Linked DNA regions of Homo sapiens. The protein of the gene in region 1 interacts with the protein of each later gene in a pairwise test. Each region holds a gene or a part of one and is shown on either strand. Other genes may lie near its edges.

Region 1 (3,821 bases):
CGACATGGCGAAACCCCATCTCTACTAAAAATACAAAAATGAGCCAGGCGTGGTAGTGGGCGCCTGTACTCCCAGCTACTCGGGAGGCTGAGGCAGGAGAATCACTTGAACCCCGGAAGCAGAGGTTGCAGTGAGCCGAGATCATGCTCCAGCCTGGGTGACAGAGCGAGATTCCATCTCAAAAAAAAAAAAAAAAAAAAAAAAAAAAGTTTGTTGGATTTCTCTATTACTTGTCTAAAACATTCCTAACAAATACAAGCGCTCTAAGTATGTGAGATTCAGCACATAGGCCGTGACTCACTTTGGCTGCTTTGAAACCTATCATCTATTTCAAACTTCAAGAAAGGGCCAGCCAGGCGTGGTGGCTCACACCTGTAATCCCAGCACTTTGGGAGGCCAAGGTGGGTGGATCACCTGAGGTCAGAAGTTCAAGACCAACCTGGTCAACATGGTAAAACCCCGTCTCTACTAAATACACAAAAATTAGCCAGGTGTGGTAGCAGGCGCCTGTAATCCCAGCTACTCAGGAGGCTGAGGCAGAAGAATCGCCTGAACCTGTGAGGCAGAGGTTGCAGTGAGCCGAGATATCTACCAAAATACATTTTTTAAAAAAGGGTCCATATAACACTTCTCACAGGAACTTGCAACTTTCAAAAATTTTTAAATTTCATTATACTAATGCCCACAGACGTCTAAAAAAACTTAGAAATAAAGCCTGTACATCATATTAAAATGAAATTATCTAACATATACCTGGTGGCATTCCAGGCATCAGAGGTGGTATTCCTGGTCCAGGTGGCATCATTCCACCCATTGGCATCATTCTATTAGAAAGCAAATTTCAAGAAACAGTAAGTTAATGAACAGCATAAACCATTAAAAAATATTCTGGCTAAAGCCTGAAACAACACTAGATAGAAGACTTGAATCTGACCTCTAATACTGAAATGAATCAAAGCTGAAAGAACACACAACACACTGTAACAATCCTATCAAAATAAATTGTCTAAAACCCAGCAAACTCTTTGGTTTACCAATAAAAAAAAAATGTTGACAAAACATTTAAAGTCATTTGAGAACAAATATACTCTCAATATGTACAAGAGGCCTCATCTAAAATATGTGTAATGGGAAAGCAAATTCACCACTTTTTCCACTTGGAAAATATCCACAGAGTATTAAAGAAAAAGAAGAAATCTCTATTTCAGAGTTGTGTTGGATTTTGAAAAGAAAAAGATTGAATGAATGTACCCTGTGAAATGAGATTTTTTATTTGGCTAGGTGCAGCAGCTCATGCCTATAATCCCAGAAGTTTTGAGAGGCCAAGGCTCAAGGACTGCTTGAACTCAGGAGTTCAAACCAGGCTGGGCAAAAAGTGAGACCATAACTTTTTAAAAAAGCAAAAATTTTAAACATTAGCTGGGTGCAGTAGTGTGCGCCTGTAGTCCCAGATACTCAGAGGGCTGAGGTGGGAGGATCACTTGAGCCCAGGAGGTCAAGGCTGCAGTAAGCTGTGACTGCGCCACTGCACTGTAGTCTGGGCGACAGAGTAAGAGACCCTGTGTCAAATACATACATATACACACACACACACACACACACACACTTTTTTTTTTTAGAGAAAGGAAATACTACCACCAAAATTAAAGACACTCAAAAGTAAAACCAGATGGCCTATTTACAATAACTACCTACCACTAAACCATGACTTAAAAACACAACCCACTTATTTTTTCCCCTAAAAGAGCTCACCTTCAAATATCAGTGTCCAATTCACTTAAAAAATGATAAATTGGTCAATTTTCTTTCAAATTTTTTAAATTTTTGTGGGTAAATTCAGTTCTTGATTTAAAATTTTTATCAGAAGATTAACTTCTATTAATAGATTAGAAAATTCCATTACATCCTATAATAATAAAGCATGTAATTTCATAGAATATAGTCTTTCTTAAATACTAACCCTTATTAACAGGTCCCATTACTTTCAATAGTTTGGAGAAAATCACTGCACATTTGAAGTATGTTTATATGGGTCTATTACCGTTTCCTAAAAGATGTTTTATTTTCCTTCTTTAAGAGACCTGTGTTAATTAGCTTGCAAGTTTTAGTGAGGAAGGTTAGAAAATTTCTGAAGTCAACTGAATAGATACCATTAAACACACACATAAAAAAATGACAGTATGATTATACCTCCTGAATTACATTATGAATGAGATGCTTACATGTTTTCACCGCAAAATGACTGGGTGTATTTTCTCTGATGATGCAATCTGTGAAAATGTATGACAAAATCAAAATCTAACTGTGATTTTCAAAATACAGTGGGAAAGTGTATTGTATACCTCTCACATCCAACAATATTTAAGTAAAAGTGATGGGCACAAGCACCTCATATTCATTTTAGTTTTGATGCTTTGACAAATAAATCATTTACAGAGTTTCTCTGCTTCTTGTCACAACTACAAAGTGTCACAGATAATTCTGAATCTCAGAAACGCAAATCTATAAATAACCAACTACTTTAATCACAGTAAATGCAATTGAAGTAGATGGTTGCTTACATATACCCTAAAACCCAAAAATCTATTACTCAGAGGCAAATTTATATTCCTTAAATTTACTGGTTGATCCCTTTATTAGACAAGATATATAGAGCCCATACCTTCTAGAAGCAAAAAATGGAAAGTAACATTTCATTCATATAACATCCAAATTGAAAAAGATCATTACTAGGCACAAGCCTACAGGGCAATTAAAAGAATTTTCTTACCCAGGTGGCATGCCTGGCATAACTGGTGGCATTCCTGGCATCAGAGGAGGAACACCTGGCATTAATGGAGGTATGCCTACAAGCAAGAATTTCAATCAAAATAATAACAAATATTAAAGAGTTAGAGGGAAGAAAGTAATACTTCGATACAATATCAATAATGTCCTAAAAATGTTAGATTTTAAGCAATCCTATGTGCTACCTGGAGGCATTCCTGGTGCTCCTGGTACTGGTGGCAGTCCTGGCTGTGCCATTGGAGGAATATAACCTTGCTGAGGTTGAACAGGCTGTGGCTGAAATGAAGTTGAGGCTGCAGAGTCGTCATCATCATATTCATCAGAATCATCTTGTTGCTTCTTTTTTTGACTTTCTGTTAAAAAAAAAAAATTATTTCCATAGAGTAAAAACTAAGAAAGTTTATTTACAACATTCAATATTTAAAAATACATATATGGGTAAAATTACTTCATGAGATTTTTCTTCCCCAAAAATTCAATTAATACTGCTCTATGTTCTTCAAATGTGTTTTCGCCCTATATTAAACAAGATTAACGTTCTTTCCCTGTCCTATGAAAGGTAAAATGATTATCCTAAATCAGTATTTTTTCTTTTAAATTTTTAGTAAAGTCTTGCTCTGCGATGCAGGCTGTACAGCAGTGGCACGACTGCAGCTCACTGCACTCTCAAACTCCTGGGCTGAAGCGATCCTCCCGCCACAGTCTCCCAAGTAGCTGGGACTGCAGACACATGCCACCACACTGGGCTTTTTTTTTTTTTTTTTGGGGGGGGGGTAAAGGTGAGGTCTTGAACTTTTGGCCTCAAGTGATCCTACGGCCTCAGCTACCTAAAGCACTGAAATTATAGGAGTCCTTCATTTTCATATGCCTTAACACTTGCTAATTCTATTTGGAATTCAATTATGAATAATAATATAAGAAAATGGAATGATCCAAATGGTACTGCATATATACAAATCAAGTATGTCTTCAAAAACAGAGCTCAAATTTTAAATTCCAAATAAATCTATCATCTACCATTCAATTTTATCTAT
Region 2 (3,821 bases), on another chromosome or scaffold:
TTATGGTTAATCTACAATAATACAGAAAATATGGTTGCTATTTTTCAATTTTATATTGCTTATTTCAATGTAAATACAATGTGAATTTTTAACAGTCTATAATTCATCTTATGTCATGGTTATGTATCTTCTGAAGATTGTTTTTATGCTCCAAACTCAAAGGTTTAAAAGCTTTAACGTAGCTGGTAAGGAAATCAGATACTCGGCAATGAATTCTCTGAAAAAGCCCCAATTTTCCCTTGGTTTCTCTTGTTGCTGACACAGGTCACCTTAGTAACGCCTTGCTACAGAAGACTCATTTCTTTTTTCTGTTGAGACAGGGTCTTGCTCTGTCACTTAGGCTGGAGTGCACTGGCGTGATCACAGCACACTGCATCCTCCGCCGCCTGGGCTCAGGCAATCCTCTTACCTCAGCCTGCTGAGTAGCTGGGACCACAGGTGTGGCCCACCAGGCCTGGCTAAATTTTTTTAAAATTATTTGTAGAGACGAAGTTTTGTCTCTGGGCTGTTTGCCCAGATTGATCTCAAACTCCTGGGCTCAAGTGATCCTCCCACCCCGGCCTCCCAAAGTGCTGGGATTACAGGTGTGAGCCACCGCACCAGGTGTTTTTTTCTTTTTTCTTTTTGAGATAAGGTCTTGCTCTTTTGCCCAGGCTAGAGTGCAGTGGCAAAATCACCCCTTATTGCAGCCTTGACCTCCTGGGCTCAGGGATCCCACCTCAGCCTCCCAAGTGGCTGGGACCACAGTCATGTACCACCATGCCCAGCTAACAGGTTTTTTTTGGAGACAGGGTCTTGCTCTGTCGCCCAGGCTGGAGTGCAGTGGCGTGATCTCAACTCACTGTAACCTCCGTCTCCCAGGCTCATGCAACTCTCCTACCTCAGCCTCCTGAGTAGCTGGAATTGCTGCAGCATGCCAGCATGCCCAGCTAATTTTTATATTTTTTGTAGAGACAGGGTTTTGCAATGTTGCCCAGGCTAGTCTTGAACTCCTGAGATCAGAAGATCCACCCACCTTGGCATCTCAAAGTGCTGGGATTATAGGCGTGAGCCACCACACCCAGCCACTGCTAATAGTTTTTATTATTTCTGTAGCGATCTCTCTGTGCTGTCCAGGCTGGTCTCAAACTCCTTGGGCTCAAGTTACCCTTCTGCCTCAGCCTCCCAAAGTGCTGGGATTACAGGCATGAGCCACTGTACTCCTGGTCTCATTTCTTTTTCTTTTCTTTTTTTTCCTAATTAGGAATTGATGTGGAATAAAGACACATTTATAAGTGTGGAATACAATGAGCCCACCATGCTTCACTTTAAGTAGATGGGAAATGTAAATTAACCTTTACTTGAAAGGTTAATTTAATAACATTAAATTAATAAGAGAAAACTTACGCTGCCTGCTTTCAATTTTTGTCAGGAAAATTGTAGGCTGCTGAAATTTTTCAATCTAATTTTATGGACAGAGCAAACAGAAACAAAGATTATTACCTTTCGGGAAGAATGTAAATAAGAATTACTACCTAGATAAGAAATTAGAAGGCCGGGTGTGGTAGCTCACGCCTGTAATCCTAGCACTTTGGGAGGCCAAGGTGGGTGGCTCACTTGAGGTCAGGAGTTCGAGACCAGCCTGGCCAACATGGTGAAATCCCGTCTCTACTAAAAATAAAAAAATTCGCCGGGCATGGTGGCACGCGCCTGTAATCCTAGATACCCGGGAGGCTGAGGCAGGAGAATTGTTTGAACCCGGGAGGTGGAGGTTGCAGTGAGCTGAGATCGTAGCACTGCACTCCAGCCTGGGAGACAGAGCAAGACTCTGTCTCAAAATAAAATAAAATAAATTAGAAGCCAGGCACAGTGGCTCACACCTGTAATCCCAGCACTTTGGGAGGCTGAGGCAGGTGGATCACCTGAGGTCAGGAGTTCGAGACCAGCCTGGCTGAAATGGTGAAACCCCACCTCTACTAAAAATATATTAACTCTTAGATTACATCTTTTTGAGGATAAGATGCAAAATATAAAATGCCACTGAATCAATATTCTTATGAAATCATTTTTGTGCCATGCCAACTTTCTCTCTATATACATCTACAGTCAAATTTCACTACTCACAGTAGCTATGTTCTAATGAACACTGAATTAACACATATAAAACCACTACTCCTGGGGAAAAATACAGGGCTGGGTTCCTGCAAGTCTCTGGTCATAACATTCTGGTCAACGGATCAATATACAATCTTGTTTAATGTCAGCTTTTGTTGAAAGGCACCTTATTTAACATACCTTGTTAATTCATTAACACTGAACACTAGACAGCGCTTCAGTGCTATGCTTGGGGACCATTATAAACAGCAAAAACTGGCCAGGCTCAGTGGCTCATGTCTCCAATCCTATCACTTTGGGAGGCTGAAACAGGAGGATCACATGAGCCCAGGAGTTTGAGACCAGCCTGTACAACATAGTGGGACCCTGTTTCTACAAAAAAAATTAAAAATTAGCCGGGTGTGGTGGTGAATGTCTATAGTCCCAGCTGCTCAGGAGGCTGAGGTGGGAGGATTGCTTGAGCCTGGGAGGTTGAGGCTGAGACCCTGTCTCAAAAAAAAACAAAAAAGTCACCAATAAGAAGCACGACAATGTGAAAAACATAGCACCAAATGCACCTCAAAAAGGACCCTCTTTATAGTATGAGCTGAAACCGGAAAGCAGAGCATCGCCCTGCCCCGCCTCAGCTGTAACATTTGCCTCAGGAGACCCAAATTCTTCACTGCTCTGCTCATGTATGTGAATAATCATGAAAGCACTGAGCACTGACATTAGGGTTACAAATAAATTTTAGCCAGTGAGTGAATTCACAAATACAGAATCTACAAATAATGAGGATCAACCATATGTATAAATACAGGCCATTTGCTTTTTATCATTAACACTGTGACCAAGATTTGATGTGATCTTTACATAAAAATATTAAGCAAATTTCCAAACCTGGTGTAAGCCAGGATTTCTGATCCCCTTACTGCTAAATGAACAAACAAAAAAGAGACCACACAAAATGCCAAAACTAGAAACTATAAACATGCAGAAAACAGTGCTGCTGGACAAAGTCACGCCATTCCACAAGTGGTACCACTGGCCAAGGGTGGACATAGCATGCATTTACCTTCAGGAACATAAGGAAGAGCTGACCCGGTGTGAGGACTTCCTGGTTCACCAAACTATCAGGATTGTCCTCCATGCACTCTCCTTTGGCTAAAGCAAAGAGCTTTCGCGTCATGAGACAAAGCATATAAAACTTTTCAGTATTGGATTTCAAGTGGATACAGATGCACTGGCTGTGAAAACAGAAAAAAAAAAAAGCTTAAAACAATTCAGTTGGTAATACTACTTAATATTCTATTAACCAAGATCCCCAACTCATGCTTACTTAACTTTAATTAAATAAAATTAAGCATTCAGTTTTTGAGCTACACTGGCCACATTTGAAGTGCTTATCATGTGACTGGTGGCTATGCACTGGACAGCACCAGTATGGAGCTGGCTTCTTTAGTAATTATACAGTGGTTATATAAGACAAAGTCCTTGCTTTGGAGAAATAAAGTGATACAATCCCTGCAACTTTCAGGGATTGTACAGAAAGAAAAATGTACATCTGTGTACACAGAAAGTAAAAAAGTAAATGTAAATGAATGAAATGTTCACAATTAGAATCCAATGTACTATTTGGACATTATTCTGGAAGTCTGAAATTATTTCAAAATAAAAGTTAAAAAGTACTATAAAATAAAACACGACTACTAAAAAAATACAAGTGAGGAGGGCCGCAAAAACAAAGG

The links.
Region 2: the proteins of ZNF207 (region 1) and POLR1B interact in a two-hybrid assay, tested with the Homo sapiens proteins (one large-scale study listed by BioGRID and IntAct).

What each region holds. Positions count from the first base shown.
Region 1 is NC_000017.11:32,359,917-32,363,737, reverse strand, and holds part of ZNF207 (BUB3-interacting and GLEBS motif-containing protein ZNF207), read right to left. Parts: intron 3,141-3,821; coding exon 2,973-3,140; intron 2,847-2,972; coding exon 2,771-2,846; intron 2,271-2,770; coding exon 2,223-2,270; intron 825-2,222; coding exon 754-824; intron 1-753. UniProt on the Homo sapiens protein: Kinetochore- and microtubule-binding protein that plays a key role in spindle assembly. ZNF207/BuGZ is mainly composed of disordered low-complexity regions and undergoes phase transition or coacervation to form temperature-dependent liquid droplets.
Region 2 is NC_000002.12:112,552,144-112,555,964, reverse strand, and holds part of POLR1B (DNA-directed RNA polymerase I subunit RPA2), read right to left. Parts: intron 3,321-3,821; coding exon 3,149-3,320; intron 2,427-3,148; exon of another isoform or gene 2,275-2,426; intron 1,442-2,274; exon of another isoform or gene 1,386-1,441; intron 1-1,385. UniProt on the Homo sapiens protein: Catalytic core component of RNA polymerase I (Pol I), a DNA-dependent RNA polymerase which synthesizes ribosomal RNA precursors using the four ribonucleoside triphosphates as substrates.